Homo sapiens: one gene and its partners. The protein of the gene in region 1 interacts with the protein of each later gene in a biochemical or structural test. Each region holds a gene or a part of one and is shown in the gene's direction. Other genes may lie near its edges. The genes, in order: UBE4B, PGAM5, PPP3CA and CNTN2.

Region 1 (7,024 bases):
TACATGTTGGCTGGGCACAGTGGCTCACACCTGTAATCCCAGCACTTTTGGGAGGCCGAAGCAGACAGATCACTTGAGGTCAGGAGTTCGAGACAAGCCTAGCCAACATGGTAAAACCCTGTTTCCACTAAAAATACAAAAAAAATTAGCCGGGCATGGTGGTGCGTGCCTGTAATCCCAGTTATTTGGGAGGCTGAGGCAGGAGAATTGCTTGAACCTGGGAGGCAGGGGTTGCAGTGAGCCAAGATTGCACCACTGCACTACAGCCTGGGTGACAGAGCAAGACTCTGTCTAAAAAAGAAAAAATTATTTACATGTAAACTTTCTATGTATAAATAAATAAGTTGCTTATAAGAAGTGTATATTTAAAATCAGTTGCATTCCTGTCTGCCAGCAACAAAAAGTTAGAAAACGTAATTTTTAAAAAGGTGCCATTCACAATTTCATTAAAAAGTATTAACATATGGTACCTAGGAATAAATTTAGCAAAAGAAGTATAAAATTTTTATAGAGAAAATTACTAAAGCTTATTGATAGACCTTAAAGAAGATCTTAATACTTGGAGAGTAATGAAAACTCAGTAATATATTACTTCTCCCCAAGTTGATCTCTAAGAGTGAAAAAAATTTTGGTCAAAATCCCGGGAGGGTTTTTAAGGAATTCCTCAGGCTGATTCCTAAGTATGTGTAGAAGAGGAAAGAGCCAAGGATAGCAAAACCTCTTAAAGGAGAAGAATAAAGTGGAGACATTGACCTAGCAGATATCAAGATTTGTGAAGTTTTAGTAATTAAGACAAAGTGGTATTGGCCAGGGACAGACAAATTGTCTAACAGAACAGTAATGAGTCTCCAGAAATAGACCCACTCGTTAATGAAAATTGGACACGTGACATAGGAGCTTTCATATTAATGTAAAAAGGATGATCTTTCCAGTAAATGGTGCTAGGGCAATTGTTCAATCGGGGATAAATGATATGTACTTAACCAGTTTTTATAATAAGACTTCAGTTGAGTTTTTTATTTTCTTAATTAAATTTTTTATTTTTATTTTTTATTTTTTTGAGATGGAGTCTCGCTCTGTCGCCCAGGCTGGAGTGCAGTGGCGCAGTCTTGGCTCACTGCGAGCTCTGCCTCCCGGGTTCAGGCCATTCTCCCGCCTCGGCCTCCTGAGTAGCTGGGCCTACAGGTGCCCACCACCATGCCCGGCTAATTTTTTGTATTTTTTAGTAGAGACGGGTTTCACCATGTTAGCCAGGATGGTCTCGATTTCCTGACCTTGTGATCCGCCCACCTCGGCCTCCCAAAGTGCTGGGATTACAGGTGTGAGCCATCGTGCCTGGCCTATTTTCTCAATTAAATTTTTAAAAATGTTTATTTAATTTTTTTTAGAGCCAGAGTCTTGCTATGCTGCCCAGGCTGGGATACAGTGGTTATTCACAGGCACAGTAATAGTGCATACAGCCTCAAACTTCTGGGCTAAAGTGATCCTCCAGCTTCAGCCTCCTAGGTAGCTCGGACCATAGGCGCATGCCAATATACCTGGCCTGGTTGAATTTTATGTCATTTTAAAATACTATATATAGGTAACCTACTTTAATGATATACTTTTATTTATTTATTTATTTGAGACGGAGTTTCGCTCTTGTTGCCCAGGCTGGAGTGCAATGGTGCGATCTCGGCTTACCGCAACCTCTGTGTCCTGAGTTCAAGTGATTCTGCTGCATCAGCCTGCCGAGTAGCTGGGATTACAGGCATGTGCCACCACGCCTGACTAATTTTATATTTTTAGTAGAGATGGGGTTTCTCCATGTTGGTCAGGCTGATCTCGAACTCCTGACCTCAGGTGATCCACCTGCCTTGGCCTCCCAAAGTGCTGGGATTACAGGCGTGAGCCACTGCACTCGGCCAATGATATACTTTTAAAAAGTAAGCCCAAGAAAATGACAACTTAGGAAAAATATTTCCAACATGTATAAGAGACAAATTGTTTAGATCCTAATTTATGAAGAACTCTTAAAAATTAATAAGAAAAAAGATGGACCATTATCATTTTCCTTTCCTGATTAACTGATATTTTAAAACATTTTCTCACCCAGCAGCTACAGTGACATTGTGCGGATTTATAAAAGGTAAAAGGCTTGTTTGTCTTTTGTACTTTAAGCATGTCCCAGGTGGATGTGGATTCAGGAATTGAAAACATGGAGGTTGATGAAAATGATCGAAGAGAAAAGCGGAGCCTCAGTGATAAGGTTGGTAAGCGATGAAGCCCTTGGTACAGGTAATAGAAATAAACACATTTCATGTCTTGTATCTGTAGAGTCTGTTAGATTGGGGCCACCCGAAATCAGGAAGTCCTAGGCAGGTGATTATTTTTATTCTTTTGAGGAAAAATGAATAACCTAGATTACCCTTATTCATGAAAGTGTAACTCAGTCCTTTGATCTGATAATATCCATCTGTTTTTGGTTCAGGGCCATGATTTTATCAGTAAATTTAGGTTGTAATAGGAACTAATTTAGAGCAAATTAGAATTCTTTCTGTTGGTCTTTTGCTTTTTTTTTTTTTTTTTTTTTTTTTTTTGAGACAGAGTCTCGCTCTGTCGCCCAGGCTGGAGTGCAGTGGTGCGATCTCGGCTCACTGCAAGCTCCGCCTCCCAGGTTCACACCATTCTCCTGCCTCAGCTTCCCAAGTAGCTGGGACTACAGGCGCCCGCCACCACGCCCAGCTAATTTTTTGTATTTTTAGTAGAGATGGGTTTTCACCGTGTTAGCCAGGATGGTCTTGATCTATTGACCTTATGATCCACCTGCCTTGGCTTCCCAAAGTGTGGGATTACAGGCGTGAGCCACTGCGCCTGGCCTGGTCTTTTGCTTTTAAGCAAGTAGATCATCACATCTTTAGCAGTATTCTGAGGAAAATGACTGGGAATTGAAGCAAGAATATGTAGAATCTAGTCGCAAGTAGAAGGTTTTGGAAAACATGAAGCCTTTATATTTGAATATCACCTGAGCTTAGTGCTCTGCATTTAGGGTGTGTGTGTGTGTGTGTGTGTGTGTATTAATATAGATAATTACATCACTTTCTGTTTAGTAAATTATTAGGAATCCTTTAGCAACACATGTTAATGATTATTGGAAGTTGCACTGTAAACAAAAATAAAGACAAACAAAGGAAAAAATAAGAAGTTGCACTGTAGCCTCCTAGTGGTGCAGTGCTTTATTTTGTATAGTTCTTTAATGTTTACAAAATTCTTTTTTATATGCTGTTTTATCTGTGGTGGTATGTAATGAGAAATGTTACAATTTTGAAAAATTCCTGGAGGAAAATTGGTCATGCACCTGGAGTGTTAACCTGGTCCTATGGAATTCAGAAAAGTAAATAGATAGGATATGTACATCCTCTGTCACATATTTTTCCTTGGTGACTTTTGATAATGACTTTGCTCTTTTTTTTTTTTTTTTTTTTTTTTTTTTTTTTTTTTTGAGACAGGGCCTCACTCTGTTGCCCAGGCTGGAGTGCAATGGCGTGATCTTGGTTCACCACAACCTCCGCCTCCTGGGTTCAAGCGATTCTCCTGCCTCAGCCTCCCAAGTAGCTCCGAGTAGCCAGGCCCGCAACCGCGCCTGGCTAATTTTTGTATTTTTAGTAGAGACAGGGTTTCACCATGTTGGCCAGGCTGGTCTTGAGCTCCTGACCTCAGGTGATCCACTGGCCTCGGCCTTCCAGAATGCTGGGATTACAGGTGTGAGCCACCACGCCCGGCCATCTTTGCTCTTTTATGCTCCCCATAGATTGTATTGTAAGCTCATGAGACTTAGATGTTGTAACTTTGATGTTATAGGAATAGGCTTACTTTTCCCCTAATCAGTGGGTGAATGGTTTCATGCATTTTTAAAATATCATCACTAATAATGAATTAAATCAGAATAACGTATTCCTATTGAAACACCTAACTCATACCTCTTATTTGAAATTAACCTGCAAATCTTCTTCTTCACCAGGAGCCTTCCTCGGGCCCTGAAGTGTCTGAAGAGCAGGCCTTACAGCTGGTCTGTAAGATCTTCCGTGTCTCTTGGAAGGACCGGGACAGAGATGTCATCTTTCTTTCTTCTCTTTCTGCACAGTTTAAGCAGAACCCAAAAGAAGGTAGGAATCTAGCTCAGCAGTCTTACTGCAGAGTACTCGACAAGAAAATAAGATGTGAGATCTTTGCCCTCTGTTATCCACATTCACTCCATCTTGCTCTTGGGTTGTATTTTTGATGACAGGGATACTTCTTGATGAGGACACAATTGTTTAGCCACTTTCTTCCCTTTCCACTGATCTTATCGATAACTTATTTTTCATTTCCATGATTTCTATAATACTATGTAAATAGGTTAATGGTCTCCATTTTCTCAGGGTTGAAGTTTTTCTCTTTGTAGTAAGAAGGTGCTTAGAGCATTACCTCCTCTTTATTTATTTATTTATTTATTTATTTATTTATTTATTTATTTATTTATTTTGAGATGGAATCTCACCCTATCACCAGGCTGGAGTGCAGTGGCATGATCTCAGCTGACTGCAACTTCTGCCTCCCGAGTTCAAGTGATTCTTCTGCCTCGGCCACTGGAGTAGCTGGGACTACAGGCGTGCACCACCACGCCCAGCTAATTTTTGTAGTTTTTTTTGTTTGTTTTGTTTTTGTTTTTTTTTTTTTTTTTGAGACAGAGTCTTGCTCTGGCACCAGGCTGGAGTGCAGTGGCGCAGTCTTGGCTCACTGCAACTCCCACCTCCTGGGTTCAAGCAATTCTCCAGCCTCAGCCTCCCGAGTTGGGATTACAGGCATGCGCCACCACACCCAGCTAATTCTTGTATTTTTAGTAGAGACAGGGTTTCACCATGTTGGCCAGGACGGTCTCGATCTCCTGATCTCGTGATCCGCCCGCCTTGGCCTCCCAAAGTGCTGGGATTACAGGCATGAGCCACCGTGCCTGGCCTCATTTTTGTAGTTTTAGTAGAGACAGGATTTCACCATGTTGGCCAGGATGGTCTCGATCTCTTGACCTCGTGATCTGCCTGCCTCGGCCTCCCAAAGTGCTGGGATTACAGGCTTGAGCCACCGAGCCTGGCCTTACCTCCTCTTATGAAGTATAGATATAGTGGGTGGTCTCCAGGGATCCTGAGAGAAGTGTTCTGTATGAGCTATACCTGCTTTAAGTGCCTATGAAGCCATGTATAGACGGTGGAATTGGTCTATTTGGTTAAATTGCTTAGCAAGATAGAACATAATGACATTTTGCTGTGTTTCTGATATTCCACTTTAAGAGGCCAAGCTTGTAACAAAATAATAAAACTCTTAGCAAGATATCAGCATCATAGGGCACTATCCTTTTTCTTTACAGTAGTCATTTGGAACGCAGAAGAGGTATGGGAGGTGTGCTGGAGTGGTTTTTTTGGCCTATCACTGGAATGTAACTTCCCTCATGGTAGGGATTTTTGTCTGTTTTACTCATTGATGTATCCCTAGAAGGATATCTTGCACAAAATAGTCCCTCAATAGATAGATTTTAAATGGATGCGTGAATATCAAGGAGATCACCTTTCTCTTTTCTATGCTGCCTATCTTCTGAGGAGGGAAAAAAAAAGTCCTTTGTATTTCTGGAGGATAGATAAGACTATTTCTGATTTTACTTATTAACTCTGCTAATGGAGCAGACCATGTATTTGAAACTCTGCTACTTGTTATTCTTATTATAAATCTTAAGATTCTCTGTCTTACACATGTAAGTGGCAAATCTGTCTTACACATGTAAGTGGCAATTTTAAATAACCAAATCAGATAAAATTTCCATGAGTTAAAACTTTTGTTAAAACAAGTGTCTTACACATGTTAAGTGGCAACTCTGTCTTACACATGTAAGTGGCAATTTTAAATAACCAAATCAGATAAAATTTCCATGAGTTAAAACTTTTGTTTAGTGGTATTTAAAATGTATCTAAAGACCAACAGTAAATCAACTGGGAGCTGCAAAGAATAAGAAGGAAGCTAGAATGTAGCATTTGCTCCTGAAAGCCACATGGTGACTAGATGTTGGACCCTTCATAAAATCTTTTGAACCTTGGACTTAATAGTTTTATTACTATCTATAAAACATATCTAGACTAAGAAATATTAACCCAGTTGCATTTGTAGTATAATAAAGTAACCTCTATAGTTGGGAGTAGCTTCTTTTTACAATTAATATACATCAGCGGTAACTCTCAATGACTGTACCCCAACTTTCTTTTTAATAAACTTTTAATTTTGGAATAGTTTCAGTTAGTGCAGGGAGTTCCTATATATACTTTACCCAGTTTCCCCTGACGTTAATATCTTATATAACCATGGTACATTTGTCAAAACTAAGAAATTACTACTAACTAAACACAAGGCTTTATTTAGGTTTTCCACTAATATCCTTTTACCATTCCAGAATCTAATCCAGGATACTGCATCGAACCATTTGGGGTCAGCTGGCTTATTCAAGGGCTGTGTAACCTGTGTTCGAACTGTGTGTAACCTGTTCTTTGTTCTGCCTTTCCAACAGTATTCTCCGATTTTAAGGACTTGATTGGCCAGATTTTAATGGAAGTGCTAATGATGTCCACTCAGACCAGAGATGAAAACCCATTTGCCAGTCTGACAGCCACATCACAGCCAATTGCTGCAGCAGCACGGTCACCAGACAGAAATCTCTTGCTAAACACTGGCTCCAATCCAGGAACAAGCCCCATGTTCTGCAGCGTGGCTTCCTTTGGTGCCAGCTCTTTGTCTAGGTCAGTGTGGTTCTCTTTGCACATCTTACTGGTAGTAAAATAACTGTGAACTACGTAGGAGAAGGGAATGTTTGTTGACAGTGTTAATCAGTGTCATACAGGGTATGGCATATATCATATTTGGGGAGGTGGATTTAGTCATTGGAAGTGGAATTCTCTTTTCTAGATTATTATTTTTTGGCTCTCTATGGTTAAGATATTGCTAGATGAAATTTTAGAAGCAGTTG
Region 2 (7,024 bases), on another chromosome or scaffold:
GCCCGGCTAATTTTTTAATGTTTTTGTAGAGACGGGGTCCCCCTGTGTTGCCCAGGCTAGTCTTGGACTCCTGGGCTCCAGTGATCTGCCCACCTCGGCCTCCCAAAGTGCTGGGATCCACTCTTTTTCAGATTCCAGCAGCTCTGGAACAGACCTTCATAATGGGAATGTTTTCTTCCTCACTGAGTGTTTGTTTATTTATTTATTTTCTGAGGCGGAGTCTCACTCTGTCGCCCAGACTGGAGTGCAGTGGCACGATCTCGGCTCTCTGCAACCTCCGCCTCCCAGGTTCAAGCGATTCTCCTGCCTCAGCCTCCCAAGTAGCTGGGATCACAGGCGTGTGCCACCAAGCCCGGCTAATTTTTGTATTTTGAGTAGAGGTGCAATTTCACCATGTTGGCCAGGCTAGTGTCGAACTCTTGACCTCAGTTGATCTGGCCACCTCAGCCTCCCAAATGCTGGGATTACACGTGTGAGCCACTGCACCCGGCCTGAGGGTCTAAAATGTGCTTAGTATGACTGAGGACATGATGTTTTAATTTTATTTAATTTTGCTTAAATTTTGAATTGAAACATCCTCATAGCTAGTGGCTGCTGTTGGGCATTGCAGTTCTAGGCTCTGCTGAAGCATCATGGTCAGGGAGGCCCATCTTGGCCCCGTGGACACTTTCCGCCTGCGCCCCGATAGCCGCTGTCCTCTTTCCTAGCCTGGCGTTCTCCGTAACCACAGTTGCGTTTGGGGTAGTCTGTCTCCTGCTGTTCACTGTCTGCCTCTCATTAGAGAAGAAGATGCACAGGGCTTTGCTTGTCTGTTTTGCTCTCCAGCGCATCACTCAGAACAGACCTGGCACTAGCTTTGTGGGAGGGAGAGTGGCGGTATGCTCAGAGAGGCCTCCCCAGGGCTGTGCCAAGGGCCTTGTCTTCTCTCCATGCTCTTCCCAAATAGTCTGACAATTTGGAAATAACATCTTGTCAGAAAAACTCAAACTTGGGAACAGAGGTCTCAAGGACATATCTTGTATTTCAACATCAGGCGAGAACCACTGTCTCTGATCAACGTGCGGAAGAGGAACGTGGAATCTGGGGAAGAAGAGCTGGCGTCCAAGCTGGACCACTACAAAGCCAAGGCCACGCGGCACATCTTCCTCATCAGGCATTCCCAGTACCACGTGGATGGCTCCCTGGAGAAGGACCGCACTCTGACCCCGCTGGGTATGTGGTGGGTTCAGATCCTCTGTGGACCCTCGTGGTTATGTGGCCAGGTGCATATCTGCTGGCGCCTTGGTTATGTGACTGGGTGCAGGTCCTCCGCCGACCCCCTTGGTCAGCTTTCTTGAAAGTGCTTGGGGCACTGGGCCTCCTGGGGCCCATGTCCGAGACCATCACCCCTGAATCACACATTATTACCAGTAACTGTCAGCTGAACTTGGACAGAAGACAAGCTTTTCAAAATGTCCTTACCTTGGCCGGGCGCGGTGGCTCACGCCTGTAATCCCAGCACTTTGGGAGGCCGAGGCAGGTGGATTACCTGAGGTCAGGAATTCGAGACCAGCCTGGCCAACCCGGCAAAACCCTGTCTCTACTAAAAGTACAAAAATTAGCCAGGTGCAGTGGTGGGCGCCTGTAGTCCCAGCTACTCGGGAAGCTGAGGCAGGAGAATGGTGTGAACCCTGGAGGCGGAGCTTGCAGTGAGCTGAGATCGCACCACTGCACTCCAGCCTGGGCGACAGAGCGAGACTCCGTCTCAAAAAAAAAAAAAATGTCCTTACCTTGGCCAGGCACGGTGGCTCACGCCTGTAATCCCAACACTTTGGGAGGCCGAGGCAGGTGGATCACCTGAGGTCAGGAGTTCGAGACCAGCCTGGCCAACAGGGCGAAACCTCGTCACTACTAAAAGTACAAAAATTAGCCGGGTGCAGTGGCAGGCACCTGTAATCCCAGCTACTAAGGAGGCTGAGACAGGAGAATTGCTTGACCCTGGGAGGTGGAGGTTGCAGTGAGCCAAGATTGCACCACTGCACTCTAGCCTAGGTAACAGAGTGAGACTCCGTCTCAAAAAAAAAAAGCCCTTAACTTTTAGCAAATGTTGGACAGATCTTGTTTGCATGAGACCAAATGCAGTGCATATCCCAGCAGTGATTTTATACCTGCTTGATGCCTTGGAAAGCGGCGTGGCTTGTGCCCTCGGCTGCTCACCTGGACCTGCTGCCAAAGACGCTTCTCTGCGGCCTGTGGCACTCACAGGCCTGATGCCTGGCGTCTGCTTGTTTGTTTGTTTTGAGACATAGTCCTGCTCTGTTACCCAGGCTGGAGTGCAGTGACGTGATCTTGGCCCGCTGCAACCTTTGCCTCCTGGGTTCAAGCAATTCTCCTGCCTCAGGCTCCCAAGTAGCTGGGACTACAGGCACACGCTGCCACTCCCAGCTATTTTTTTGTATTTTTAGTAGAGACGGGGTTTCACCGTGTTAGCCAGGATGGTCTCTATCTCCTGACCTTGTGATCCACCCGCCTCGGCCTCCCAAAGTACTGGGATTACAGGCGTGAGCCACCACACCCAGCCTAATTTTTTTTTTTTTTTGTATTTTTAGTAGAGATGGGGTTTCACCATATTGGCCAGGCTGGTCTCAAACTCCTGACCTCGTAATCCGCCCGCCTTGGCCTCCCAAAGTGCTAGGGTGACAGGTGTGAGCCACCGCGCCCGGCCTGGCCTCTGCCTCTTAATGCCCTGTTGAACAGGCGGGACTGAGCAACAGGATCCCGCCTGTCCCCACTGGCAGATGCTGCATAGACAGCGTCCAGGAGGGTCCTTCCACCTTGTCCTTGTGTCCCTGTGCAGGTGGATCTGTAGAAGAAATGCCTGCCTAGAGAAGGAAATGCAGGGTGGGCTAAGGTAGAGTTTACATTTTGAAAAGTTCTTCGAATGGGATAGTGCCTGTTCATGCACATACTAAAAGTTCAGATAGTAAAAATGTGCAGGGCTGTCCTCCACAGACGCCGCCCCCCAGTCCCCAGAGCTGTCCTGGCTGCTTGTGCACAAAGAAAGTGGAGTGACAGATGCAGGTGTGGCTGCATCCAGTGGCTTCGGCCTTCCTGAGGCGTTTTCACCTGGATGCAAAAGCTCACAAGAGAAAAGGCATCTGCACTGGTGTCCGGCCCCCACATAGCAGCTTGGGGTGTTTAGGTCCCGCTGTGTTGGCCTCCGCCATGGCGCGTGGTTGGGGGCCTGTGAGGCTCAGGTTTTGGACACAGTTGAGTGAGGGTGACAAGGGGGGACCCAGAAACCACCCCTGGGCCCCACCAAGCGCCAGCCACCATCCGGTTTGCTTGCTGCTCCATTGGTGGAATCAGATGCATGTTTTTTCCTGTATGGGGGTGAAGACAGTTGAGTGCCGGCCCCTCTGGCCCAAGCCTCGGGCGGGCAGGAGCCATCGGCTGAGCTTGCTGAGCTTGCTGCCTGATCAGGGGTCGTGTTTGCGGGCGGAGGAGGGGGTGTTTGCGGGCGGAGGAGGGGGTGTTTGAGGGTGGAGGAGGGCGTGTTTGCGGGCGGAGGAGGGGGTGTTTGAGGGTGGAGGAGGGGGTGCAGGTGCGGCACTCAGGTGCCTTTCACCTTCCAGGTCGGGAGCAGGCTGAACTCACTGGGCTCCGCCTGGCAAGCTTGGGGTTGAAGTTTAATAAAATCGTCCATTCGTCTATGACGCGCGCCATAGAGACCACCGATATCATCAGCCGGCACCTGCCAGGTGAGTGCTGCGCGCGGGGCCTCCATGCTTGCAGCAGTGGGCGGCTCGTGGCAGGGCCCCGGCCTGAGCTCCTGGCCACCGGGAGGTCACAGCATCTCCGCCGGCGGGGCCGCCTCACCCAGCGCTTCGCTGTGCTTCTCTGCAGGCGTCTGCAAAGTCAGCACAGATCTGCTGCGGGAAGGCGCCCCCATCGAGCCAGACCCGCCCGTGTCTCATTGGAAGCCGGAAGCTGTGGTAAAAACCTCCCCGGGGGGCAGCTGTGTCACCCTCGCCTTCCCTGGGCAAAGCGGCCCTGCTGGGCTCACCATCCACCACGTGCCCGGCCGTCCCACGGGCTTCCCCGGGCGGCGATGGGGTCTGTCCTCCTGACACCCGCCCTGCCCGAGCACTTCCGCACTGACGGCTCCTCACTCTGCCCCCAGCAGTATTACGAAGACGGAGCCCGGATCGAGGCCGCCTTCCGGAACTACATCCACCGCGCAGATGCCAGGCAGGAGGAGGACAGTTACGAGATCTTCATCTGTCACGCCAACGTCATCCGCTACATCGTGTGCAGGTAGGCAGCTGCTGGGCTGGGCGTGGTCTAAAATAATTTCAGACTTAGAGAAAAGCATGAGGAAGAAGCCGAGCGAGACCCTCCTCCACTGCCGATGCCACCCTAGTCAGGCCTCACCAGCCCCCGGGCGTCCACTTCCCGCGAGTCCTAGTCAGTTACGCGGTAGGTGGCGTGTTACTTGGAGCTTCTCATAAGGCTGTTTTGGGCAAGGGTGGTGCAGACAGGGAGGGACCCCTGTGGTGTCCTGGGTGGGGTGCGTGCTGGGTGGGGGGTCCTGAGTGGGGTGCGTGCTGGGTGGGGGTGTCCTGGGTGGGGTGTGTGCTGGGTGGGGGGTCCTGGGTGGGGTGCGTGCTGGGTGGGGGTGTCCTGGGTGGGGTGCGTGCTGGGTGGGGGTGTCCTGGGTGGGGTGCGTGCTGGGTGGGGGTGTCCTGGGTGGGGTGCGTGCTGGGTGGGGGGTCCTGGGTGGGGTGCGTGCTGGGTGGGGGTGTCCTGGGTGGGGTGCGTGCTGGGTGGGGGGTCCTGGGTACGGTGCATGCTGGGCGTCCGCACTGCCCTGGTTGTTTTCCCTTTGTAATTGAACGTCCTGTTTCCCCTCAAACTCGACCAACCACCTTCTGCCTCCGGCTGGATCCCACTGGCAGCATCCCGCCGCTGTTGTCCGCTGGGGATTTTGTGCTTCTGGGGTCCTGACCTCTTTCACTTGCTGATCTGTGGGCGCTCCCACCCGTGTGCCAGCGTGACGGCTCGGGGTGTCCGCTCCCCTCTGGGTCGAGGCCACAGCTGAGTCACGTTGCTGCTCGGGCTGCTCCCTCGGGGGGCCCTTGTCCCTCAACCTGCTCTGGTGCCCCACTCTCAGCACCACAGAATGATCCGGGTTCAGGTTGCGTTTTCCCTGCCACCACCCTGCAATCAGCCACTTCTTTAAGGAGCTCCAGGGCTGCAGCCACGTTAGAGGGCCCCTTGGGGGGCAGGGCCAGCTCTACGGTTACATGCCTGAAACAGTCAGAAGGGTTGGCCAAATCTCACTAAATGCAAATTTGAAACAAATTTGCCTCTTCTCTGGATCCATTAGGAAATGTGTGTGTGGGCTCCGCAGCTGAGGGGGCCCTCTTGAGTGTGACGAGTCCTGTGGTGGGAGGACAGGACGGCACTGGTCAGTGATGCCGTGTGAGGCTGGGCCCTGGTCTCTGCCCGTCTGTCACCTGGGCCTGTCACCAGGGCTGGGGCTGCTGGGAGCACCATGGTCAAGAGCAGCAGCTCCCAGAAAGTCGAGGATGTACGGGCCGAGATTCTCAAGCTTGGCTCCAGACCAGATAGAGCTTTTCTGGGGGTTGGAGCCTCCGGGTGGTGTGGCCTCAGGCTAAGTGAGTACCTGTTTGCTGTGAGTCGTTCGTTGCCTCCTGTCTGTGCTTGTGAATGAGCCATATGGGTGGCTTCTATGCTGCCACCACCACCTTGTGTGTCCATGACACAGTCACCCCGAGGTGACACAAATGCTAAAAATGCACAGAAATAACCGGGGCGGGAGAGTGGAGCCGACCTGAGTCCACACAGTGGTGAGGGCCAGGCACGTGCACCTGGACACGAGAATATGGCTGTGCTGTTCCGGCCGGTGCCGCCAGGCAGCCCTGAGGAGGCTCGGGAAGCAGCGTGAGGGTGGCCATGCGGCCCACTGAGACAGGGCGGTGGGTGGCTCAGAGGCGATGAAGGCAACTCCGAGCTTTTCCGCAAATGCGAATTGTGCCTAAGAAGTGCATGAAGATGCCACGGCGGGTAGATCCCATCTCCGTTCTTTGCTTTCCCAGAAAGGGACCTGTTGCACTAACTGGCTGCTCCCTGCTTTTATATGGGAAAAGCAGAAATTAAACTGTGTTTCCTCGTAAGAAGTCAGCGTTGTTCTGATCTGTGCAAATCTTGAGTTGGGGTTGGGCCCCTGTCCTAAAGAGGGCAGGTCCCCAAGTGTGATGGCTCCATTCATGTCGATCCCAGTCATCGATTCACGTCGATCCCAGCCAGATCTTCCCCGAGAAGCCCCGACTGAAGACAGGAGCGGCTCGGCTGATGTGTACCCCGGCCCTGAGGCTGCTCTGAGACTTCTGAGGGGCTCAGCCTCTGTTTGTAGAACAGAGCCCCCTGGCACAGCCTGGCCCAGCCTCTTTTAAGGACAGAGTCCCCTGGCTCTAGCCCAGCCCGTTTTTTTTTTTTTAGACAGAATCTCGCTCTGTCACCCAGGCTGGAGTGCAGTGGCGCGATCTCAGCTCACTGCAAGCTCCGCCTCCCGGGTTCACGCCATTCTTCTGCCTCAGCCTCCCAAGTAGCTGGGACTACAGGTGCCTGCTATCACGCCCAGCTAATTTTTTGTATTTTTAGTAGAGATGGGGTTTCACCGTGTTAGCTGGGATGGTCTCGATCTCCTGACCTTGTGATCCACCCGCCTGGCCTCCCAAAGTGCTGGGATTACAGGTGTGAGCCACCATGCCCGGCCTAGCTCAGCCCGTTTTAAGGACAGAGCCCCCTGGCTCTAACGTGCTCTTTCTCTCTCTCTCTCTCTCCCCAGAGCACTGCAGTTTCCTCCTGAAGGCTGGCTCCGGCTCTCCCTCAATAATGGCAGCATCACCCACCTGGTGATCCGACCCAACGGCCGAGTTGCGCTCAGGACCCTCGGGGACACGGGGTTCATGCCTCCCGACAAGATCACTCGATCCTGAGGGCTCCGGCCTCTCCTTCC
Region 3 (7,024 bases), on another chromosome or scaffold:
TGCATTTGTTTTGATAGAGATCCTGATGTGAGATGTGAAATGTGAAATTTTGTTTATAGAAGTTTTGTTGATGAATCCTGATTTTAAGGTGGATACACTGTTATTGTTTATCCTGTTTTCTTGTAGAATATTATTGGCATGAAAGGCATTATACAAGGTTGGATTCAACCTTTTGTCATACATAAGATTTTTATTATTAGTTATTTGAGATAATCTATTTTGATTATTAGCTTTCTGTGAAATAATATTTCCCCTTGAGTATGTATACACGTACTGAATGAATGGAAAGTACGCGTATGCTGGATGTGAAACATATTAACAAGTGATTTAATTTGCAAAAATTAGATAATATGGAGTTTAGAAACCATTATTTACTTGAAATTTTGTTAGAACTTCATCTCAATGGCTATTTAACTCATTCTTTAATACAGAAAAGAAATTATCTTTGAGGAAGTATTTGTGCTCCATAAGTTTTCTCTTTTTTACGAAGTATGTGTAGTATTATTTACTATATATACATACAAAAATAAATATTCAGATTGTTATTACCATGGCATGCCATGGCATTTGCTTACAGTTATATTTATTAGTGTCATCTGGCTTTTGTTGTATAAGAAATTGCTATTTACAAATAAAGATGTGCTTGTGGTTTGTAGTAATATGATGTGACTGTTTTCTTAATTGTACTTTTAGAATGCAGCTTTAGAGACGTAGGTTGAGTCTGTCTCAACTATGTTATTTTTGAGGTTTATAGAATCTGCTAGCATGTATTCAGAGACCCTGATCGGTTTTCTAAACCTTAAAAATGAAAGAGAATGATGGCAGTGGAGATGAAAAGTATTTGTTTAGATTATCCCAGGAGAGAAAGTTACTTCAGTTAGCAAAACTAGTGCTGTATCATTTTGACTCTTCTTGGATTAAAACAATGGAAAGTAGAAAAATTCAGAGAAAACATCTTGGTAATGACCTTTGCTGGAAATCAAAATAATATGGTCCGTTTATTGCTTTACATTATATTTTTAAAGATACATACAGCAAACCGAGGGCAATAAATAGAAGAATAACTGTCTTCCTCCCCTTGACCCCCGTCCTGATTTTTCTCTTAGTGATACTCTACAGGCCTTGTCTCAAACTTTGGCTTTTCTTCATTTCTCTCTGTTCCTGCCTAGAATGCTTTGTCTGGCCCTAGCATTCCCTATTGGTCATGGAACTTTGCTATGTGATAGTTAAAAATACTTAGAGGAAATTAAACCCTATGTGATAATGAGTATTTGGCTTTGTTAAATCTCTTAACCTACCTTCCCTCTGTTCCCATCTCCAAGTATTTTGTGATGGGACTTCTACCTTAACTCAAACCGATGGTAATGGTAGAAATTTTAGAAACTATGGGAGGCTGTTGAGGGATAAATTTCTGAGAAGAGTTTTGTGGAATCTCTCAGAAACTATAGATAATGCGTTGTTGTGCTTTGTGTAAGGTTGCTTTTGGCCATAGAGAATGAGCTGTTTTTCAGGTGTATTGCCAGCTTACGTACTTCATGTAGACAGAGTACACATAGGAGAATTCTGAAAGATGCTAAGATCATAGAAGCAAGAAGATGCTAGTTAAGTATTATTAAGTAAATAAGGATTCCAGCCACTAGTATTTCTAGCTGGGTGAGACTGATAATACTACTTAAAAAGAAAACAAATATGTCACATTCGTAGTAACTGTCGTGTTTAGACCTTGATGCAACAGAGTAGTAAATAATGTCATTTATTTGTGGTGTTCCAGGAAGAGCTTGTGAATTTATTTTACTGACATTTTGTTACCATCAGTTGAGTTTCATGTATCTGGTTTTCAATTTGAGTATAGTGAAACTTTATTAATTCAATATCATGAATTTAAATTTATTGTGAAAAAACACCAGTGTTTGTTGGCTGAAGTTTACATCAGCATTGGATGTGAAGAAAGGGGTCCGATAACCAAAAAGTATAAACAACATAGTTCCAGCATTGTTAATATACCAAGAGAACAAATTCTTTTCAATACTTAGTGAACAGTATGCAAATTCATCCTGTTCGTTACGAGTTAGGTTGGTCTATTTATTAACATTTCCTTTTGGGACTATTATAAAGTGAATATAACACAAGTGCATTGTTGTAAAAACATTCAGTAAATTTAATGATTAATGCAACAATTGAGACTGGGATTCAGGGGAATTCCAGTGATTCTAAAATGCCATCAATTAGAATAATCAACATTTTGAAGATAATAGTTTTTCTGAGAAGTGTGGGATAGAACCCTTATTTTAAATGGACAGTTTATCTTAAGACATCCAGTTAAAATAGGAAAAAATTAACATCTAGAATCTAATTAATGAGGTTTACTCTAAGATTTGTTTAAAAATATGCCTTTTAAAATCTATTTGTCTCTTTGTTTTATTTGTAATTTTAGCGAGATGAAATATAATTTTGATAGACCATTCATTTATAACTTTTGTAATTGGCCTCTCATGCTTTTCCTTATCTTTTTTTGTGTCAGCTATGTGTAAATTTGAAACTAATTATGACACCAAATAAAGAATCCATTTAGGGTGACCTCATTGGAAAACAGCATTTTTGCAGATACTCACTCTCCTTTTAGCAAATATGGTTAAATTACCATTTTGAATACTTCTAGAACTATGAAGAATGGTGGTGATTCATGATATAGAATTTTGATAATTACTAAAAATCATTTTGTCAATTTTTTTCCAGCAACTTTCTGATGTAGCAGTCTCTTGATATACAAGAGGGATATGGTGAGACCTTGAACTTCAGCTTTCTGTAATTCCACTGGTATATGTTATAACTTCACAGGCTAACTTTCTCTATACATAAAAGGGGAGTAATTGTATCCACTGTCAACTTGTGAGGACCGAAGGATAATCAAATGGGAAATGGGGAGTGTGTGGTTAACACTTTGTCCACTGCCTGGTAATGGCGATTCAGTCACTGCTAACACAGAATTAGAAATGACACGTGTTATGTATTTTCTGGTCACCTGAGAATAGTCAGAACCATTAGCATTGAAAGCCATGAGTGCCTTGGGTCAAGAGTAGCTTATGATGACATTTATTTTTATAGTTAAAGAAGTGGAGACAGAATAGATAGAATGGTTACAGGTAAGTGTAAACACATTATTTTCTTTATTAAAGAGGCTTTTCTTGCTTGAAAACATTTTTGAAAATTGCCACTGGCCAGGTGTGGTGGCTCACACCTATAATCCTAGCACTTTGGGATGCTGAGGTGGAAGCTTGGGCAACATAGCAAGACCATATCTCTTAAAAAAAAAAAAAAGAAAAAGAAAAAAAGAAAATGGCCACTTCTTTTGGTATATTTAAGATATCTTCACATTTCATTTCGCATTTTGTTTTACTAAATAATTAACTATGTAAAATAGTTTGATTAGGAGAGGAAGCTTTTTATATTTCTGTTTTTAGCAGACATCAAATTCTGGTGATAAATATTATAATTTAGTCTGACCTTGGCCTGAGGTTTATAAAGAAATACTGTTAAACATTGCTTTCTGTTCAGGTAAATATATACACAGAAATAGAATAGTATACTCTCCTGCAAAAGAATGTTATTTACTTTCATTTTGAAGGATGTTGTCTTAAGCCTGTTTTTCTGAACTCCACTTAATGACCCACACTGATGCTCTGGTTTGACAAACAAAATCTTCAGATTTGATGATTTTGTTAATTTCTAGAGCAGGCTCAGGTGAAAATATCAGCCAGTGATTCTGAGGTGTTGCATTCCTATTTTTAAAGCAGTCATTAGGTAGGACTGATGTAGGCAATGAAATAGGATTTCAGTTTGTAAATTAAGTCTTTAGTACTCTTGACATTTTCAGCATTTTAAAATCATTTTATTTTACAATAATTCCATCTTTTATATGAATCCATCAATTATATTTCATATGAGAAGTGAAATAACAATTGTGTATTCCTCCATGGTTAGGGGTTCTGAATAATGGCTTAAATCAGATGGGTTATCAACTTTATGACCTAGCCCAGTTGCTGGTATCTCAAATCCGTTTTAACAAATATGCACTCGGGTAGTGGAAGCTTTAGATATTAAAAAAATAAAAGCCCTCACTGACAAAGTGGCAATAAATTATTAAAATGCTATGTTTTTGGAATTCAGGTAGATTCTTTTTGAGACCATCATAGAGAGGAATAGAACTTTGCTGTCCTTTTTGTTTTCCTTATCCATGCTTTTGTCTCACAGCAAAATATACTATGACTCTATTTTAAAAAATGGTCTACCTGTCTGTGAACTTCTGTCTCTTGCAACTGGAAATTTTGCTTGTGTCTGTCTGCAAAAGAGGGAAACAAATAGATATCAGGGATTTATAAAAGCTATCTCAATATTATGACATACTAGTTTACAATGTTTGTCAATTTCAGGTACTTTTGACAACTGTGAAACCGGAAGAATGATGGTTGATGTTCAAAGAGAGAGTTTTATTTATATGGAGCTAAATTAAAAAAATTTTCATCAGCTCTAAGATTCTTAGACTTAGAGTCTTTCTGTGGTGATTTTATTGTCCCAGTTTTCCTTTCTTTGGGGAAGAATTAGTAGTAGTTTTTATTTAAAATGTCCAGTTCTTTCTATGTAATATCAGAATGTTTTGGAAATTCTAGTATGTCAGTGTCTAAACTATGTGTCTTGGTTGCTGCATATACTTGGAAGTTGCATAAAATTGTTAATATTTGTATTCAGAGTTTTAGTTTGGAAAAAATGGTCATTGTCTTATTGGTCCCTAGCTCAATGCCTTGCTTATTAAATGCACTGAATAAATTCTTTTGAATGAGATGGATATTGTAAAATTCTCATGTGCCTCCTGAAGCCTTCTAAATTGTTTTTATTTTGAGTGTATTATATTAAGTTCCATTTGTAACTGGTTCTGTATGGTGACTGGCGAATTGGAGTGCTTCTTTCTCCAGCCCAATCAGGGCATGGAGTATGAGAAGGAGGCATTAATAAGGTTACACAATTAGAATGAGAGCTGTTCTGTTCGGTCACTTGAACTCACTTTGTCCCTGCTGAATGTAAAAGGCTAAGTTCTATTCAATTTAATTTATTTGCTTGAACCTGACAGCTGTCTTTCAGTTTTTATTGTATTCCCCTTTAGGCTGGTCAATTTCTGACAAATGAGAAAAAATATGTTAATCACTGAGTGTTTGATTATTGGATGATTTGTGTATTTTAGTTATTGTCTAGATTTGGACTTGAAGATAAAATGACCTGGTAAATTTCATGAAAAAGAACAAATTGGAAAAAACCTCTTTCCCTGTTTACATCTCAATATATCATTTCCTATAATGCTTCTGTAATCCAGAAATGCTGCCTTCTCCAACATGACCTCCTTCCCTTCTCTGGCCCCCAAAATGTCATTGGATGCCATCCAGTGGAAAGATACATGGGCTATGAAAAGTTAAGAAAAAGGTGGCACTAACGCTGCTGTCTCCTTAGATTCTCACAAGTGGGCTTTGAGCCATCCGTTGACATTTGTTTTTAAAACATCTTGTAAGTTATGCTGTTTTATCAAGTTAAATTAAAAGCAAGATATATTCTTAAAAAGATGGAACCTGAGTCAGGAATTCAAGTTTGTTTTATTTTTTGTTTGCTTTTTACAAAGGAATTTGATTTTAAAAAATGATAAATCTGGCATTGTTGGTTCATGTATATTTAATGCTATTAAAGTTACACACATTCCTGTTCTGCTGGGCCTGATTATTGGGATAACAAATGTTCTCCTGATCATTCAGTTCTCTTCTTTCGAGCTTCAGTTCAGAAGTTACCTCCTTTGAGACCTGCATCTCCTGACACCTTCACTTAGAATAAAGGAATTGAGCCTCTTCCTTCTCACAGAGGACACCTTGATAAGAGCATGTTGCTGTGATGACTTGTTTCCTTGTCTGCCTCTCCTCCCCAGGAGGTGGAAAGTCCTAGAGACAGAAGTTCTATCTACTTTTGTGTCTTTAGCTCTAGCACAGGGCCTGCTGTAGAATAGGCATTTGATACATAGTTGTTACAGGAATGAAATAACAAAGGATAAGATGGATTTAAATTTCTAAATTATGGGGTTCCTTTATGTTTTGAAATTTTGTCAATCTTAAATCGTGATCAGTACACAAATGTCTGATGAGTCTTGACTTGTAAGCTCCAGTCTTTGTAGAAGTGTGTTTTCCTGTGAGTTTTTGAAGTGCTGTATTTTATTAACTGGCATTATATGGATTTTGCTCGGTAGCCAGCATGCAGAAGCATAACTGGCAGAAGTGGCCTTCCCATAGGGAGTGCTTGACTTTTAATGGATTATTGTCACAAGGTGTATAGGTTGATTTCCTCAAAGGTGAGTGATGGTTTCTTTCTCAGGAAGACAGGTGATGATACTAAATTGAGGGGAGAGCCATTTGACAAGCATATGGGAGGCCCATATTAGTCTTCACAATGTGCAAATTCAAATGAATAAAAATGTATAAGATTAGGAATTAGAACAGAGATTAAAACATACTGTACACCCCGATAGGTGATAACTTACTGTGTATATACCAATAAAAAATCTTCAGGCCCATCACGAGTACAGGCTGCTCATGAGTCACCTCTCCTGATGGCATGTCTGCATGGTGAGTGTTTTTAGAAAAGCTCAGTACTGGACTCCACACCAACAGAGTGGCAGTATAGTGAGGCACTTGCTCTTAGTCCCATCCTTACAGAAGACCGCTAAAGCTGCGCTACCCCAGATGTGGTTGTATGACTTCTGGTTAAAGAAAGCCAGCTGGGCCTTTCCAAGCTCCATTTTATTTTTGTTCTGAATGAATATTTCCAGTCTCTCACATGGGCCGGGATATACTTTGTCTCACTAACACAGAAATACTTTCATTTCAAAGAGTTGAAGACTAAGGAAACTATAGTTTCCTACATAAAATCTCACTGTTAGCTTCTGTTGATTTGCATTCAGCAACCAGGAGGGAATCTCTGTTGTCCTCGCCTCTGG
Region 4 (7,441 bases), about 190 Mb from region 1:
AATGACATTAGCATCATCTATTATAAGCCTGAAAAAGGAGCTGCAAGAGCCCTGGGTTGAAATGGCAAAGAGAATAATTAGGCCCCTCCAGGCCACAGACCCCTCTGGGCCCTCACATGAAATTAGGAAGGCAAATGCAGACAGGGCATTGAGATCTTCCTTCCAGCACCCCTGCTAGGTCAACTTGGCTTCTCCAGGCATTACACAAATCATGGCCTTCCCAGGCCCCACATCTTGGCTCCTGCCACACCACATGCCCCCATGCCAGAAACACATTCCCCACCTCCTCTCTGTCCATCCAGGCTCAATTCAAGATGCACCCACCCACCCCCACTGAAAGCTTCACCCACATCCTACCTCCCTCTCTCCTCATCCTCTGAATGGTTACTATAGCTACTCTCCTTCATTCATTCACCCAGTCAACAAATATTTATTGAGTCTCCACCATGCACCAGGCACTGTGCTAAACAGGAGGGTGGGGGACTGGGAGAATACGGACTGATGAGATAATCCCTACCTTTTGGACTGCATAGCTGAGGGAATGGCCATCAGTATTTGATATGGCACTTTGCAATTCAAAGTGCTTTTAAAAACCATTATGTTTAATTCACATATCCTCACTACCATCCTAGATAGGAGTAGGATCATTCCTATTTTACTGGTGAAGAAATGGATTATCTGGGCGATTAAGTGTCATTCTGTTACTTGCCCAGAGTCATCCAGGTAGGAGTGACAGAGCTGGGACAGAGTCCAGTTCTCTTGACTACAAATCCAGAGCCACCCCAACCACTTGCAGCCCTTACTGCTCTGCCTCATATCCTTGTTTTACAGATGAGGGAGGCTAAATCCCAAAAGGGAAATACTGACATTTATTGAGCACCTGCTGTGCTAGCTACTTCACGTGTAACTCAACACTCACATCAACTCAGTGAGGTATGTGTCTTCATCCCCATATTCTGGGTGAAGAGGTATGTGGCTTGCCCATGGCCTCACATCTCCTCAGTAGCAGGACTGGGTGTCAAACGGGTCTGTCTGCAGAGCTTTTCCTTATGGCCATATCAGTTTTCCCCAGAGCTGTGGATGGACAGTCCTGTTACCACTGTCACACTGCTTCCAAAAAGGTCACTGGCACTTTGAAGACCGCATCCCCTGGCTCTTGGATCCCTACATTCCAGGCAGAGGAGCTGCTCCATAAATACATGGCCTCCTGGGAAAAGGGTCTGGGCAAAGATGCTGGTGGCGGGAGAGGCCAGGAAAGGAGAGGTGAGGCGGGGGAGTGGTGAGGAAAGAGACAGCAAAGCTGCAGCATCCTGGGGCCATGGCAGGGTCTCATCTCCTCCCCACTTGTCCCCAGGGATGGGGCCTAGAGGTCCCTTCTTGATCGGTTAGAGACCCACTGGATTCCATTGCTATCAATCTTGTGTGGCTACAGTAGGAAGAAGCAGATGGTCTGGGCAGGGTTGGGTGGCCCTCAAAATGCTTTCTGATCCCCACCCACCACCACCAAGGGAGCACCACATGTTTGCGGACAAATTTATAAGCCATTTGACTAGCCACCTGATTATCTTCACTGGCCCTTTCTTGCCCTGTTTGAAAGTCTGTGGGGACTCAACTTTGAGATGTGGAGTCCCAGCTCTGGACAACATGGAGTCATATTGATCAGCCACAGAAAGGAGAGGTGGCCCTTATGGTCAGCTGCACTGAAGATTGTGGGCTCTGGATGTCACCAAAGAAGAAGAAACTGTTCTGCCCCCTATTTTGCCCACCTCAAAAGAACAGACAGTAGGTAGCTGGAGTCCATGGCACGGTGGCTAAGCCAGGATGCTGGAGGCCGATCCCAGGCCTCACTCTGTCATCTAGGCTGGAGTGCAGTGGCACGATCACAGCTCACTGCAGGCTTAACCTCCCAGGCTCAGGTGATCTTTCTACCTCAGCCTCCTAGGTAGCTGGGACTACAGGTGTGCACTGCCACACTGGCTAATTTTTGTGTGTTTTTTGTTGAGACGGGGTTTCGCCACGTTGCCCAGGGTTCCACTTGTTTACTATTTCTTTTGAGCAAGTTCCTTACTCTTACTGAGCAACATCTGAAAAGTGAGGATAATAACAACATGGACCTCTTGCGCAAGTAATTCAGGTAAAGCATTTAGCACAGCTCCCGGCATGTGGGAGGCATTCAAAACAGATATTATTTCTGTTATTATCAAGCTAATGGGCCCCACAAGCAAAACTCAGCCTGCACCCCCAAATGCCCACCCCACTCTCTCCTCAGGAACAGGAGCATCTCAGAGACTGGGAGTGCAGATCCCCCTAATCTCCCCAAACTCATTCATACTAGACTTCACTGAGAGCTTCAGACAAGTGAGAAGATGAGACTTTGGGAACTGTCTCCCCATCCAAGTCTAGGCTTGGCAAATGTTCTTGTTTTCACTTATTGTGTCTGCCAGAGTCCACATGGAGCATGCTGGTTGCATTGAGATCTGAGAGTCTTTAAGACCCAAGTCACCTGTGCTAACGACCCTCCCCAGAGACCCAGCTCCCACCACAGGGCAGCAGCTGTCCTAAAATAGAGTCACAAAGACAGCTGTCTCCGTCTAAAGCAATCCTTGCAAGCATTTCCAGACTGTTGGTTCCTGGGCCAGCCTATTTCCTGGCCCGTCAGCCCCCTGCAGCAGACATAGCATCCTTTTCTTGGCAAGGACTTGTTCCTGCCGTTTTCTGCTAGGAGAGAACTTGCAGAGCCTCTCTTTGGAGCCCAGGCTGACTTGAATGGTGCCAAAGAGCAAGGTTCACCTCAGGAGCTCAGAGCCAATGTGCCAGCCCTCAGACATACAGATAGGCAAGGACAGTGTGGGCAGGGGAAGGAAGGGAAAGATATCCTGGCAAGGGGTTGATGTGTCTGTCTATATAACAGCATTCAACATTATTTAAGAAACATCATTAGCAAAATCCAAGTCCTCCCCATCAGGAACAAAGAAGACTATCTCTCAAGTTGGGCAAGCCCTTTGGAGGGGCTCAGAAGGAAAGGAGGGGAGCGCATGTGGGACCTGGGCAGACATTCCAGCCTTGGAGGCTGAGCAGCAGAACCTCCCCGACTCCTTCTCCTTTTCCAGACCCTCTCATTCTGGCCCAGGTCCCCAGGACCTCCTCCACTCAGGGAGACATGGAGCCATGATCCAGGCTTGACAGGTATAGCCATTTAAAACTGGGAGGCTGGCCTGGCCCTGCCAGCTGTTGCAGCATCTGGACTGCTCACCGGTCTTGCCTGTGCAAGCTGGACAGCAGGCAGATCAGAGGGGGGTGAGACAACAGTGACAGCCTGACAGGGCCGACTGGTGCCGCAGATGGCTGGTCCCTCCGCCTCCGGGCCACAGCCTTCCTGGGCACTCCCCCACGTGACCGGAGCAGGGCAGGAGAAAGGCATCGCTGACAAGGGTGAGCACTTAGAATCTCAGAGCTGGCAGGACTGTGTCCATCTTTAATCCCTTCAGGTACCAGCGAGGCTCAGAGAGGGCAGGGCACCTAGCCAAGCACACACAGCCAGTCGGTTGTGGAGCCCAGAGTATGCTTCAGACACCCAGACCCCTAATCCAGGGAGCTTTTCATGACATCACACTGCTGGTTGCTTAAAAATGGGATTGGATCCAAACGTACTGATGCGTAAAAGTGTCCAAGATCAGTTACACAGTTAAAAGTCTTTGGCCAATCCTACTGTTTTATGTAATCACATTTGTGTGAAATAACCCTACTAACCCATGTAATTGTATACACGAAAATAATAAACCTGGGGGCATGTACTTAGATTTATTAAGAGTAGTGGTTGAGGGACTTTCACTATGTATTTTTAAATGTCCTCTAATATTTAGATATTTTGACAAAAAGCTCAAACTACTTTTGAACAAGGGAAACAATAAAGAGGAACATGGGGTGGACCGGGCAACAGAGACAGCCCCTCCCTGCCACTTGCCCCACACAGCAAGCTGGGATTTCTGATTTGGATCTCTTCCTCGGATAGGGGATTTCTGGGGAAACCAGGAGTTTTGGCTCCATGGGTCTCCAGGGTTTGAGGAGTAAGAGCCACTTTCTTTTCCCTCTTCACCCCGCCCCTCTCCTGCCCCTTCAGCCCTGGGCAGGGGGACTAGAAGTGGGGCTGGGCAGGATCGGGAGGGCAGGCGGGCCAGACAGCGCCCCGCGGCCTGTCCATGAGCGGCCCATGCATTATGGAAGACGCGCGCTGGGCTCGCTCCCTGGTCCTTAAATGACAGCAAATGAGGTAAAGCCAGGAGGGTGGGGACGGAAGTGGGGTGGGAGGGGGGCAGAAGGAAGCCATCTCCAGGGCCCCCGAGCGTTGGCTGAGGACCAGAGCCAGCCAGTGAGCGGAGCCTGGGAGAGGGAGGAGCACATCTTGATGCAGAGATGCTGCAGTGGCTCCGGGCGCGCTCACACACACGCGCCCTCACCCGCCACCGCCGCCGCGGCCGCCGCCGCACCCGGACAGCGAGCGGCTGAGGCCGCCAGGGCCCAAAGGACAGCGGCCCAGACAGGGGCTGGCGGCCCGGCCGGCCCCGGCTCACCGACTCGGGCAGCATCCACCTGCCCCAGCCAACACCCTTCTCTCGCCCCAGGTAGGTGCCAACCGCTTTTGTCTCCTCCAACCCAGGGACTTCCCTGCGTGCTGTTATGGGCCGGGGCTCCCGGCTCAGTTCCTGTAAATATCCCCCTTGTAACTTGGGAGGGAACAGGGACAGGAACACTGGCAGGCTGGGGCCGTTCTGACTTCTCCCCTCAGCCCCAGGGTGGGTGCTGGGGCTCCCCTCCGCCCTGTCTACGTGGGCGGCATCCCGCAGGGCTCTCTCAGGCCGAGCCTGGCCGAAAAGCTGGACCCCAGGAGTGTGTCCAGGAATTCCAGTTGGCCAGCGGGCAGTGGCAGCTGCCTGTGGAGAGGGCAGTTTCTCCTGGGCCGGCCCTGGGCACCCGGTCCAGGACAGGACCAGTCCATACAGCCAGGCCCTGGGCCCTGGCCTGCCCCAGAAGTCCCTGCATGGAATTGAGCCGGAGTCCCCAGTTTTGAGGTCACCCAGGGTCTACCTCTGCAGGGTGACCTCTTTGCAAAGTCTTGCTTCAGCTGGATGGAGAGGGGGGCTGTGGAAGAGAGAGGGGAGAGTGGAGCACAAGTTTGGGCAAGGGCCTGTCCAGGAACTGGGACTCGGGGAGGAGAGTCCTGAGGCCAGTCACATCCCAAAGGGCGAGAGGCTGGGGCTACCGGGCTGAAATTCCTTTCCTTCCCTTCCCCCTCCCAACCTTAGCTTCTCCTCAAATCCCTCCCCCCCATCCTCACTGGTGGGAGGGAAGAATTTGCACAAAGTTTGGCTTTCCAGTAAGGAAAGGGGCTGGGGCCAGAATGGTATGGGGAAGGGAAGGGGCAGAGCTGGGGAGTTCTGGAAAGAGAGGGCAATCCTTCTGCCCAGCACCGTGGGGCTTACATAATGGGCTGGAGGTGGGGGGCAGCCCCAGCCAGTGAGTGTCCAGAGCTGAATCCTGTCACCTTCTCCAAGAGGGTCTCTCAGGTCTGGGAAGCAGCGGGGCATGGAGAAGGCAGTGCCTATGGAAGGGGAGAATCCTGCTGCTACTTGGGGATGGAGACGGGCACCCTCTAGCCCCAGACCCCTGGGGGTTGAGCCTGTGTCCTGGGGGGGGGGGTCCAGTGAGGCCAGGAGGGAGTGGGGTTGTGCATGCCATGGCCCCAGCCCTGGAGAAAGGTGGGTTTCAGCATCTTTTCCCTCTGCTCAGAAGGAGCTGGGAGGAGGAACAGCCCAAGAAACCCAGTGCACAGGTGATGTTCTGGTCTCGTCTGGGCAACAGTTTCGGCCTCCTCTCCCAACCGTCTGGCCAAAGACGCCTCAGCTCACTTAGCCTCCGAGTCTCTCTACCTCCTGGTCCCACTCAGAGGGGCCGGATGAGCCACTGGAGATCGAGTGCAGCAAAAGGTGGGCCACCTGTGGGAGAGGCTGCTGTGATCGCACCTGGACAGGGAGATGGCCTGGAGGTCACAACAGGTGCCCTCACTCCTGGCCTTGGGAGAAGGGAGCTCTCCCCTTAAAGACAGCAGCATCCAAGCCCCTCCCCAGGGTGCCCACCAGTTAACCCCTTTCTAGCCAAGCTGCAGAACCATGGACAGGGCTTTTGCCACAAGGTCAGAGTCCTTCCTAATCTCCCGTGGAAGTCCTCAGCGAATAAGAGGGAGGCAGGAGGTGAGACAGACAGGAAAGGGCCCCTGACCTGATGATGTCAAAGTCACCCAAGGTCCACCTGCCTCACAGGTGCAGAGACCACTGTGCTCACACCATGAGCGGTGAGGGAAGCAGAGGCACACTCCTTATGCAGATGAGTGCCTCAGACTCCAGGAGTCTGCTCTCATTCCCGGCTCTTTCTCTCTTACTCTCCTCCCTTCCTCTACTCCTTCTTTCCTCGCACTCCCTTCTCTCATCGCGTGTACTCCACCGGCTTCAGCCCTCAGCCTCCCGCCGCCACCATTTCCCCTGCCAGATTTCACTCCTTATGCAACTCCATTCCAGCACCTTCTCTGCCAGCAGTTGTTCAAATAGAGACACATGTGGGATGGGCCTCCGAGGAATTGTGCTTAACGGGGTGATTGCACATCTCGTCTCTGGCTGACCAAACTTACTCCTTAGGAGCATGTACATAGACAGGTGTACCCCAAGGCATCCTTTCTGCCTCTAAAGTCACCAGGGAAGCAACGCATTTGGGGTGGTTTGGAGGATGCATGGTGCCCTCTTCAGAAACCTCCTTGAGCCAAACGTTGGTGAGAAAGCGTATTTCAAAGACAATCTCTAAGCCTGAGTGTGGGTGGTATTTGTATTTTTGGAGGGATTCCTAGGGCAGAACCAGGGGGTTGGAGAAGAGGTGATTGATATGCAGGGGAGGAAGAACCAGAGCAAAGAATATGCCAGGGAAGCCAGAGGGACTTAAGTTAGACTGCAGGAGACACTTCCTGGCTAGAAGAGTGAGCCATGAGGAGGTGGGGCAGTCTCCTTTCAGATGACTCTAAGGATGGTGTGGAGAACTGGGGTCTGGTCCAAGGTTAGAGAGTCCTGCCTAGAGGCAAAGGTTGGGCTGGCTGACCCTGTAAATTTCTTCCAACTTCTAGTAATCCTCTTTCAAATGGTAAAAGGTGGATGTGACTCAGGAATCCATAAGAAGGCAGACATCCTTTTCATCCCCTCATGCATGCTGGCCACCCCCTCATCCTTCAGGACTACAACCCCAATCTAAACAAACCACCCAGAGGCTGTTGCTAACCTGGAACATTTATGGGAGTTTCTGTGGGCTCCGTATCCTGACGGTAACCATCCTAGAGTAAGTCCTTTCTTAGTTTGATGATTCCTTGCTACAAGATTAGCCCATGTTTCTTTGTTTACCAAAG

What was found.
Region 2: of the proteins of UBE4B (region 1) and PGAM5, one has a biochemical effect on the other in vitro, tested with the Homo sapiens proteins (one study listed by BioGRID).
Region 3: of the proteins of UBE4B (region 1) and PPP3CA, one has a biochemical effect on the other in vitro, tested with the Homo sapiens proteins (one study listed by BioGRID).
Region 4: of the proteins of UBE4B (region 1) and CNTN2, one has a biochemical effect on the other in vitro, tested with the Homo sapiens proteins (one study listed by BioGRID).

The regions. Positions count from the first base shown.
Region 1 is NC_000001.11:10,098,948-10,105,971, forward strand, and holds part of UBE4B (ubiquitin conjugation factor E4 B), read left to right. Parts: intron 1-2,160; coding exon 2,161-2,248; exon of another isoform or gene 2,249-2,259; coding exon of another isoform or gene 2,260-2,277; intron 2,278-4,000; coding exon 4,001-4,145; intron 4,146-6,568; coding exon 6,569-6,797; intron 6,798-7,024. UniProt on the Homo sapiens protein: Ubiquitin-protein ligase that probably functions as an E3 ligase in conjunction with specific E1 and E2 ligases. May also function as an E4 ligase mediating the assembly of polyubiquitin chains on substrates ubiquitinated by another E3 ubiquitin ligase.
Region 2 is NC_000012.12:132,713,825-132,720,848, forward strand, and holds part of PGAM5 (serine/threonine-protein phosphatase PGAM5, mitochondrial), read left to right. Parts: intron 1-1,033; coding exon 1,034-1,212; intron 1,213-3,614; coding exon 3,615-3,740; intron 3,741-3,885; coding exon 3,886-3,974; intron 3,975-4,162; coding exon 4,163-4,296; intron 4,297-4,937; coding exon of another isoform or gene 4,938-4,986; exon of another isoform or gene 4,987-5,343; intron 5,344-6,853; coding exon 6,854-7,004; 3' UTR 7,005-7,024. UniProt on the Homo sapiens protein: Mitochondrial serine/threonine phosphatase that dephosphorylates various substrates and thus plays a role in different biological processes including cellular senescence or mitophagy. Modulates cellular senescence by regulating mitochondrial dynamics.
Region 3 is NC_000004.12:101,337,503-101,344,526, reverse strand, and holds part of PPP3CA (protein phosphatase 3 catalytic subunit alpha), read left to right. Parts: intron 1-7,024. UniProt on the Homo sapiens protein: Calcium-dependent, calmodulin-stimulated protein phosphatase which plays an essential role in the transduction of intracellular Ca(2+)-mediated signals. Many of the substrates contain a PxIxIT motif and/or a LxVP motif.
Region 4 is NC_000001.11:205,038,773-205,046,213, forward strand, and holds the start of CNTN2 (contactin-2 precursor), read left to right. Parts: upstream 1-4,439; 5' UTR 4,440-4,622; intron 4,623-7,441. UniProt on the Homo sapiens protein: In conjunction with another transmembrane protein, CNTNAP2, contributes to the organization of axonal domains at nodes of Ranvier by maintaining voltage-gated potassium channels at the juxtaparanodal region. May be involved in cell adhesion.